2 linked regions of the Homo sapiens genome follow. The protein of the gene in region 1 purifies or fractionates together with the protein of each later gene. This does not show direct contact. Each region holds a gene or a part of one and is shown on either strand. Other genes may lie near its edges.

Evidence for each region. The genes of interacting proteins can lie anywhere in the genome.
Region 2: the proteins of WASHC5 (region 1) and ARID4B fractionate together in Homo sapiens (co-fractionation; one large-scale study listed by BioGRID). This does not show direct contact.

The regions. Positions count from the first base shown.
Region 1 is NC_000008.11:125,025,114-125,030,217, reverse strand, and holds part of WASHC5 (WASH complex subunit 5), read left to right. Parts: intron 1-1,510; coding exon 1,511-1,598; intron 1,599-5,104. UniProt on the Homo sapiens protein: Acts as a component of the WASH core complex that functions as a nucleation-promoting factor (NPF) at the surface of endosomes, where it recruits and activates the Arp2/3 complex to induce actin polymerization, playing a key role in the fission of tubules that serve as transport intermediates during endosome sorting.
Region 2 is NC_000001.11:235,181,636-235,185,992, reverse strand, and holds part of ARID4B (AT-rich interactive domain-containing protein 4B), read left to right. Parts: intron 1-3,199; coding exon 3,200-4,357. UniProt on the Homo sapiens protein: Acts as a transcriptional repressor. May function in the assembly and/or enzymatic activity of the Sin3A corepressor complex or in mediating interactions between the complex and other regulatory complexes.

The sequences.
Region 1 (5,104 bases):
TGATTAGCAAGTAACCTCCACACAACTGGCTGTCCCAATTGTAGCTCCCTAGCTGTCAACTTGGACAGGTTCTTCTTCCTCTCTTTCTTTTTCACTAATGGCAGTAAAGGCTTAAGTGTGGCTCTAGTCCAGCATGTTATTGGCAACCCTGAGGGTGGTGATCAGGCTACAGGAGACCAGCTGTAAGTCAGGCTTTCTGATTCAGCAGAGCAAAGGAATCTAAGGAACCTGTGACGCATGGGAATTCCTTCCTTTCTCTTGCTCCAAGCAGAGCAAATATAGCCCTGGTCACAGATTGAAAGATTGAGAGCAGGGAGAATTTTTCCAGGTACAGTCATTCTTAACCCATTCAAAAAGCAAAGTTCATCAGCGAAATTAACCAGTAATGTATTAATAGTACTAAAAGTTATTTGTTAATCAGAAAATGCCAATTGGTACAGGAATTGGAAATCGTTTTAACACCTAAAAACTCCTTTTGATGTAAACAAGAAGGAACGTTAGCTCTATAAGGAGCCTGGCATGTACTTTGCTGTATTCCCAGCTCTGGAACAGTGCTTGGCACTGTAGTTGCTGAATGAATGAATACATGAGTAAAATCCCATATGAAAAATTGCTAGATGCTGTATTTATTTGATACCGTCAAATATGCAGTACATGCCAAGCACATTTCCAGATGCTGGAGAAACAAAGATGAACATATGACCTAGGCCCTCGAGGAGTTTATACTCCTGATGGGAACCCAGCACACCATTGAAAAATTAAGAGGCTTGGAGAATGCTGCTAACTATTATGACAGCCCAGGAGAATCAGGGAGGATTCCACAGGAGAAGTACCCAAGCTGAGACTCGAACAATGTCTAGAAGTTTACTTTCAAATCAGTGTGCAGGCCAGGTGCGGTGGCTCACGCCTGTAATCCCAACACTTTGGGAGGCCAGGGCGGGTGGATCACCTGAGGTCAGGAGTTCAAGACCAGCCTGGCCAACATGGTGAAACCCCGTCTCTACTAAAAATACAAAAAATTAGCCAGGCATGCTGGCGTGCATCTGTAATCCCAGCCAGTCGGGAGGCTGAGGCTGGAGAATCACTTGAACCCGGGAGGCGGAGGTTGCAGTGAGCCGAGATCATACCACTGCACTCCAGCCTGGCTACAAGAGTGAAAAGTCTGTCGCAAAAAAAAAAAAAAAAAAGTGTGCAGGGATGGGAAAGTATGGGACCTGCTAGGTATTGAATCATGTAAACAGAGGGAGATGAGTCTGGATAGATAGCAGGGATCGTGTTGTAAACGCCCATGGAAACCGTATAGAGAAGCTCACATTTACCCTATGGGGTGGGCTCCTGAAAATACATGAGCAAGGTAACAACTTGACAGGAATTAAGAGCATGCTCAATGTTTTTGTTCATCTTTGACTTCATTAGGTAATCTGTTGGTAATTTAGTCTTTCAGGATTCTGACCAAAAGGGCTTATGATGTGCAAAGCAGTTAATTGATCTAAACTGTTCTCTATCACAGCCAGAAGATACCTGAAATTCCTGCAGATGTTGTGGGTGCCCTTCTGTTCCTGGAGGATTATGTTCGGTACACAAAGCTACCCAGGAGGGTAAGTGATAGATAGTAAAGAACAATATTAATAGTTGTAAAAAGATGCTAATAATAGTGGCCCTGGATTCATCAGGAGTGAAGCCCAATAGGTCGTTCACAGTAGATGCCTCTGCGCCTCTCGCCACTGCTCTACCCCCAGCTCTGAAATGTCCTTGCCTTTTCCACCATGGGAATTGCCTTGCAGAGTTTAACACAATGCCCCTCCCGCCTCTTCTTCCTCTCCACCATGTACTCCTGTCAGCAACTCATCTGGTTCAGGAGTTAAGTGAAATAGGCAAGCCAGGAGGGATTCCTTAAGTGGCCAGAGGAAAGAAATAATCATGGTGGTTTGTTCTTTCTCTCTCCACTGACCTGGTTCCCACAGCAAGCACAGTTAAGTTCATGCCACAACTAAATGTATATATGAGCACTGTTTCCAAAAATGGCAGACTACTTTTTACCTGCCAAGACATTCTTTCCTATCCCTTTCTCATTAGTAATTCCACTTTGTTAAATTTTAGCTCAAAGTGGAGAGCTTGATACTGAAAAATACAACTTTCAGCAGATACTGAAAATCATTTGATTTTTAGAAATTAGTAGGTTAGGAATCAAAGATACTTTCTTACAACATGAGCCAAAGATGAACTTTTAAAATTAACTAGCAATGTCAGTACATAATAGTGAAATGTTAGTGGCATTCCCATTAAAGCCAGGACTGTCACAGTGTCATGACAACTATACAGACTCTTGCAACTACTTTTGTTATACAGGTGCAAGACAATAAGAAATGAAATGAAAATAAAATGCATATTGGAAAGAAGACAAACTCTGTATTATTTGAGATTAATTGTCTTCCTTTTTTATTCTATTTTTCCATAAGTTATTGGGATACAGGTGGTATTTGGTTACATGAGTAAGTTCTTTAGTGGTGATTTGTGAGATTTTGATGCACCCATCACCTGAGCAGTATACACTGCACCATATTTGTAGTATTTTATCCTCACTCCCCTCCCATTCTTCCCTCCAAGTCCCCAAAGTCCATTGTATAATTCTTATGCCTTTGCGTCCTCATAGCTTAGCTCCCACATATCAGTAGGAATATACGATGTTTGGTTTTCCATTCCTGAGTTACTTCACTTGTAAGAATAATCTCCAGTCTCATCCGGGTCACTGCAAATGCTGTTAATTCATTCTTTTTTATGGCTGCGTAGCATTCCATCGTATGTATATATCACAATTTCTTTATCCACTCATTGATTGATGGACACTTAGGTTGGTTCCACGATTTTGCAATTGTAAATTGTACTGCTGTAAACATGCATGTGCAGGTATCTTTTTTGAATAATGACTTCTTTTCCTCTGGGTAGTTACCCAGTAGTGGGATTGCTGCATAACTGTCTTCCTTGAATACCCAATAGAATCATGTGAAAAACTATCAAAATAATACAGAGATCAGAAAACAAGCTGGCTACAGAATAAATGTATGAAATACATCAATCGATTAAAAAATACAGTGTGAAAAAGGACCTATTCACAGAAATAACAAGGCAATGATATAGCTAAGAATAACCTCTATAAGAAATATGAAAGAACACTTTATTAAAAAACTATAAAAATTTTAAATATAAAATTTGAAAGTCCATGTTTCTGAATGAGGGTCCTCGAATATTACAGAGATAATAGTTCTATCTAGTTTATAGGTTTACTGCAGTTACAATCAAGATTTCAGGTACTTTTTTAACTTCAAAGAATATATTTTTTAAAATGTCATAGGACTTAGGCAAGTCCTTTTTTAAAAAAAAGATATTAAAATATTATATCAAGTATTAAAACACTGTAAAACTGTAGAAACCAAAATAGGGTGCTACTGGTATGCAACTAAATAGAAGGAACAATGAGCAAGAATATGTAGCCTAGAAACACACCCTGTGCATACAATGGTACATAAGGAAAAGTAGCATCTCAAATTAAGAGAGAAAGGGAATATTAGTCAATAGATGTAAGTTCACACAGTTAAAAAAATAGCAACTTAGTCCCCTTTACATCTCCTATGTTATCAAAATTAATTACAGATAAAGGGTTAGTGTGAAATATGAAACAAATAAATTAGCCGAAATTTTAGGCAAATATGTATCAGCTCTCAGAAATTCCTAAGTATAAAACCAAAAGAAGAAACTATAAAGAAAAAGATTTAGAGACTTGATTTTTTATAAATGCTGAATGTAATTAATTCTGTGTCAGTGTCTCAGTTAAAAAACAAAAGACAAAAGAGGAAATACCAACAAAGGACTAGTTTCTTGATTTATAGTGTGCTCTTCAAATCTTCAAGTTCAGTATGAAAAAGATGTCCAAGCCAATAGAAAAAAAGCAGGGGAAGGGCAAAGGAAATTAAGAGGCAGTTTTCAAGAAAATAGAAATGACAAACCTTCGGATTCAAGGGACAAAAATCCAAATACGAAAATTACTGTTTCCACTTATCAGGTTGGTGAAAGGTAAAATGTTGGGCCCCCATTATTCGGAAGCATTTGGAGAAATGGGACTTGTAAGTGCTATTAATTGGAATGTAAATTGACAGCCTTTGAGGAGGGCAATTTAGCTTTATCTATTTTAAAAAAACATTTGTAATATACTTACCCTGATCCCAGCAATTCCACTGCTAGGAATTTTACCTGCTGGATATATGTGCAAAGGTTTACCAAGATATGTGCCCAAGGATGTTCATAATATAAGATTTAGCAGAGGTAGAGAAGGACACAATATTATGTGATCCTAATTTTGATTGTGTGTGTGTGTGTGTGTGTGTGTCTGTCTGCATATGTAAGTAAACTGGAAAAATTCATTACAAAAGTTGCCAGTTTTTATTTTCTTTAAGGGATTAAGATTAAAAAAATATTTTTTTAAATTTTAAGCTCTGGGCTACACGTGCAGAATGTGCAGGTTTGTTACATAGGTATTATACATGTGCCATCTGTCGCCAGGCTGGAGTGCAGTAGTGAGATCTGGGCTCACTACAGCCTCCGCCTCCCTGGTTCAAGTGATTCTCCTGCCTCAGCCTCCTGAGTAGCTGTGATTACAGATGCGTACCACCACGCCCTGCTGATTTTTTTATTTTCAGTAGAGATGGGATTTCTCCATGTTAGTCAGGCTGGTCTTGAACTCCTGACCTCATGATCCACCCACCTCAGCCTCCCAAAGTGCCAGGATTACAGGCGTGAGCCACCACGCCCAGCCTAGGTTTTAAGCCTCACATGTATTAGGTATTTATACTAATGCTCTCCCTCCCCTTGCCCTCCACCCACTGTAAAAATAATTTTTATACTCTTCTGCATTTGCTAAATTTCCTCTCATTAGCAGGTTATACCTTTATGATCAGAAAAAAAATTAAACACTGCTTCTAAAAAATACTCATCTCCAGCACTTGGAGATCACCTACCTCTACATTCTACCCAACTGAGCCCAATTTAGTCTTCTCAGGGCTTTGCCCAAGAACAGTTCAGGAATGCATGCCTCTGAAGGCCTTCCTGC
Region 2 (4,357 bases), on another chromosome or scaffold:
TCTCAAAAAAAAAAAAAGCAAATAACTAAAGAAAAATTCCAGAACTGACAGACACAAATCTTTACATTGAAATTGCTCACTAGGTACCGAATAAATTAATAGAGTCATACCGTAGTACATCATTATGAAATTATAAAATATCAAGAATGAAAAAATCACCACAAAGGAATGAGAAACCAAAGGAAGGTTATGGCTTATAACCCCTTAAGCAAAGAAGCAATACATTCGGAAGGATTCAGAACTCTGAAGGAAACAATTTTTAACCTAGAATTCTGTACCTCGTGAAACTCTCAATCAATGAAGTTTGAGGGTAAGGATGTATTCAGATAAGTAAGGACGATGAATATTTATATCCCATGTACCTTTTTAAGGAAACTACTCGATGAGCTCTAGTACAGATGAGATAACCAAGGAAGAAGAAGATGTGAGATTCAGTTAACAGTGGACCTAGCTCAAAAGAAAGCAGTGAGGAGGATTCCCCGGATGACAGCTGTTAGAGCAGACCCAGAGAGATACCACCCAGATGCTACTGCAGAAAATAGCTCTCTAGGGTGCAGAGATAGGATGAATAAGGGGAAATTGGATACAACGCTTAATTTAATGAAATAAAATAATGTAAAAGAGATACAAAGGAAGATGTAACATGCAGAAAAGTAGTTGGAAACTCTTGGAAAAATAAAATGCTGTATAAGAAAGGAAGTTTATCAAATGTACTACTTATTTCTGCAGGGAACCACATTTACATATGTTATAAATACTATATTGTAAAAATGAAAGATAACTATATATAGAAAGGATGGTAGAGGGGAGATATGGGTGTTGATAAGTAAGAATCCCCATTGCTCATAGAGGATAAACTTTATAAATAAGTCAGCAGGCCAGGGACGTTGGCTCATGCCTATAATCCCAGTGCTTTGGGAGGCTGAGATGAGCAGATCACTTGGGGTCAAGAGTTCGAGATCAGCCTGTCTAAAATGATGAAACTTCATCTCTACTAAAAATACAAAAATTAGCTGGGCATGGTGGCATGTGCCTGTAGTCCCAGCTGCTTGGGAGGCCGAGGCAGGAGAATTGCTTGAATCCAGGAAGAGGAGGTTGCAGTGAACTGAGATCACACCACTGTACTCCAGCCTGGGTGACAGAGTGAGATTCCGTCACACACACAAAAAAATAAATAAAACAAATAGTATATTATGAATAGTAAGAGATGACTATAACTATCAGATGTTAACACTTTGGAGGTGGAAAAACAGATTTTTATCCTCTTTTTGGTTTTTCATTATGAGTCTAGATTTGTTTTTAATGATGTATATGTATTGTTTTGATAATTTAAAAAATGTGGCCATGCAGACACACATTGTAAAGGTGAAATGGTTTCACAATCTTAGTTATGTCAGTTATGTTTTACATTTAATGAATTTAGCTAAAGAACATGCATGGATTTCTCAGTAGAGAGCTATAGTTAAGGTTGTAAGTTCTGGAGTTAAATGACTTAGATTTAACTACCTTGGGGGGTAGATTAACCTCTAAACCCCAGTCCCTTTTTTTTTGCTTTGTTTTGTTGTGTTGCTTTTTGTTTGTTTGTTTTTCTTATTTATTTAAGACCCTAGTCTCTTGAACTATAAAGTGGGGCTGATAACATGTATCTCGTAGCATTGTTCTGAGGATTGAATGAGATGGTCTGTTCAAAGTGTATCAAAAGTAACCAGCATGTAGTAAGTTCTCAGGAAATGTTATCTTAAAATAACAATAAAATGATTTACCAGAATGAACACACTGAAGCAGTAAGTTCCATAATTAATTTTACATAAGTTATCAGTAACTAAAATTAATTATATCTATTCTTTAAAACATCATGGAAATCATTGATTACAAAATTATTGGATATTCATTATTACATTGAAAAATGAAGCTGGCCAGGTGTGGTGGCTCATGCCTTTAATCTCAGCACTTTGGAAGGCTGAGGTAGGCAGGTTGCTAGAGCTCAGGAGTTCAAGACCAGCCTTGGCAACATGACGAGACCCTGTCTCTACAAAAAATACAAAAATTCACTGGATGTGGCACACCTGTAGTCCCAGCTACTTGGGTGGCTGAGGTGGGAGGATCATTTGAGCCCAGGAGGTTGAGGCTGCAGTGAGCCATGATAGTGCCTGGGGAACAGAGTAAGACCCTGTCTCAGAAAAAAATAGAGAGAGAGAGAGAAATAAAGAAAGAGAAAGGAAAGAGAAAGGAAGGGAGGCAGGGAGGGAAAGAAAATAAAACAAAACAAAACAAAGGAAAGAAAAATGAGAGGCCAGGTGCAGTAGCTTGCTCCTGTGATCCCAGCTACTCAGGAATCTGAGGTGGGAGGATCTCTTGAGCCTAGGAGTTTGAGGCTGAAGTGCACTGTGATTGTGCCACTGCACTCCAGCTTGGATGAGAGAGTGAGACCGTCTCTGATGAAAAGAAAAATGAAGGCTATAGTTTCATAAGAGTATAAACTTGGGGCCAGGCGTGGTGGCTCACGCCTGTAATCCCAGCACTTTGGGAGGCCGAGGAGGGCGGGTCACGAGGTCAGGAGATCAAGACCATCCTGGCTAACACAGTGAAACCCCGTGTCTACTAAAAATACAAAAAATTAGCCGGGCGTGGTGGTGGGCGCCTGTAGTCCCAGCTGCTCAGGAGGCTGAGGCAGGAGAATGGCGTGAACCCAGGAGGCAGAGCTTGCTGTGAGCCGACATCACGCCACTTACACTTTTAGCTTGGATGACAAAGTGAGACTCAAAAAAAAAAAAAGAAGAATATTAACTTGGAGGTAGCACAATCTGGGATTATATCCTGACTCCACTATTTTCTCAGATATATTATGATAAAAATATTATACTTATATAAACTTGGAGAAGCTTTTTTCTTTTTTATTTCAGCTTTATTAAGGTACAGTTTACATAAAAGTGATGACTTTTATGTTTAAAATGTGATGGGTTTTGACAAAAGTATACAGTGTTACAACCATCACCGTGATCGTAATAGAACATTTCCATCATTGGAAGAGCCTCTTAGCCTCTTTGAAACCCAGTTTCTTTGCATGTTACATAGAGATAAAAGCCAGCAACCTCGGGTGGCTGTATACACAGGACCTAATATATACAGTCCCTGGCACATAGAAGACATTGCTAGTGTTCTTATCATACTCATCATTTTTTTTTCTGTTATTTTCTAGCTTCTGAAAGTTCTGCTGAAGACAGTGAGCAGGAAGATGAGAGAGGTGCTCAAGACATGGATAATAATGGCAAAGAGGAATCTAAGATTGATCATTTGACCAACAACAGAAATGATCTTATTTCAAAGGAGGAACAGAACAGTTCATCTTTGCTAGAAGAAAACAAAGTTCATGCAGATTTGGTAATATCCAAACCAGTGTCAAAATCTCCAGAAAGATTAAGGAAAGATATAGAAGTATTATCCGAAGATACTGATTATGAAGAAGATGAAGTCACAAAAAAGAGAAAGGATGTCAAGAAGGACACAACAGATAAATCTTCAAAACCACAAATAAAACGTGGTAAAAGAAGGTATTGCAATACAGAAGAGTGTCTAAAAACTGGATCACCTGGCAAAAAGGAAGAGAAGGCCAAGAACAAAGAATCACTTTGCATGGAAAACAGTAGCAACAGCTCTTCAGATGAAGATGAAGAAGAAACAAAAGCAAAGATGACACCAACTAAGAAATACAATGGTTTGGAGGAAAAAAGAAAATCTCTACGGACAACTGGTTTCTATTCAGGATTTTCAGAAGTGGCAGAAAAAAGGATTAAACTTTTAAATAACTCTGATGAAAGACTTCAAAACAGCAGGGCCAAAGATCGAAAAGATGTCTGGTCAAGTATTCAGGGACAGTGGCCTAAAAAAACGCTGAAAGAGCTTTTTTCAGACTCTGATACTGAGGCTGCAGCTTCCCCACCGCATCCTGCCCCAGAGGAGGGGGTGGCAGAGGAGTCACTGCAGACTGTGGCTGAAGAGGAGAGTTGTTCACCCAGTGTAGAACTAGAAAAACCACCTCCAGTCAATGTCGATAGTAAACCCATTGAAGAAAAAACAGTAGAGGTCAATGACAGAAAAGCAGAATTTCCAAGTAGTGGCAGTAATTCAGTGCTAAATACCCCTCCTACTACACCTGAATCGCCTTCATCAGTCACTGTAACAGAAGGCAGCCGGCAGCAGTCTTCTGTAACAGTATCAGAACCACTGGCTCCAAACCAAGAAGAGGTTCGAAGTATCAAGAGTGAAACTGATAGCACAATTGAGGTGGATAGTGTTGCTGGGGAGCTCCAAGACCTCCAGTCTGAAGGGAATAGCTCGCCAGCAGGTTTTGATGCCA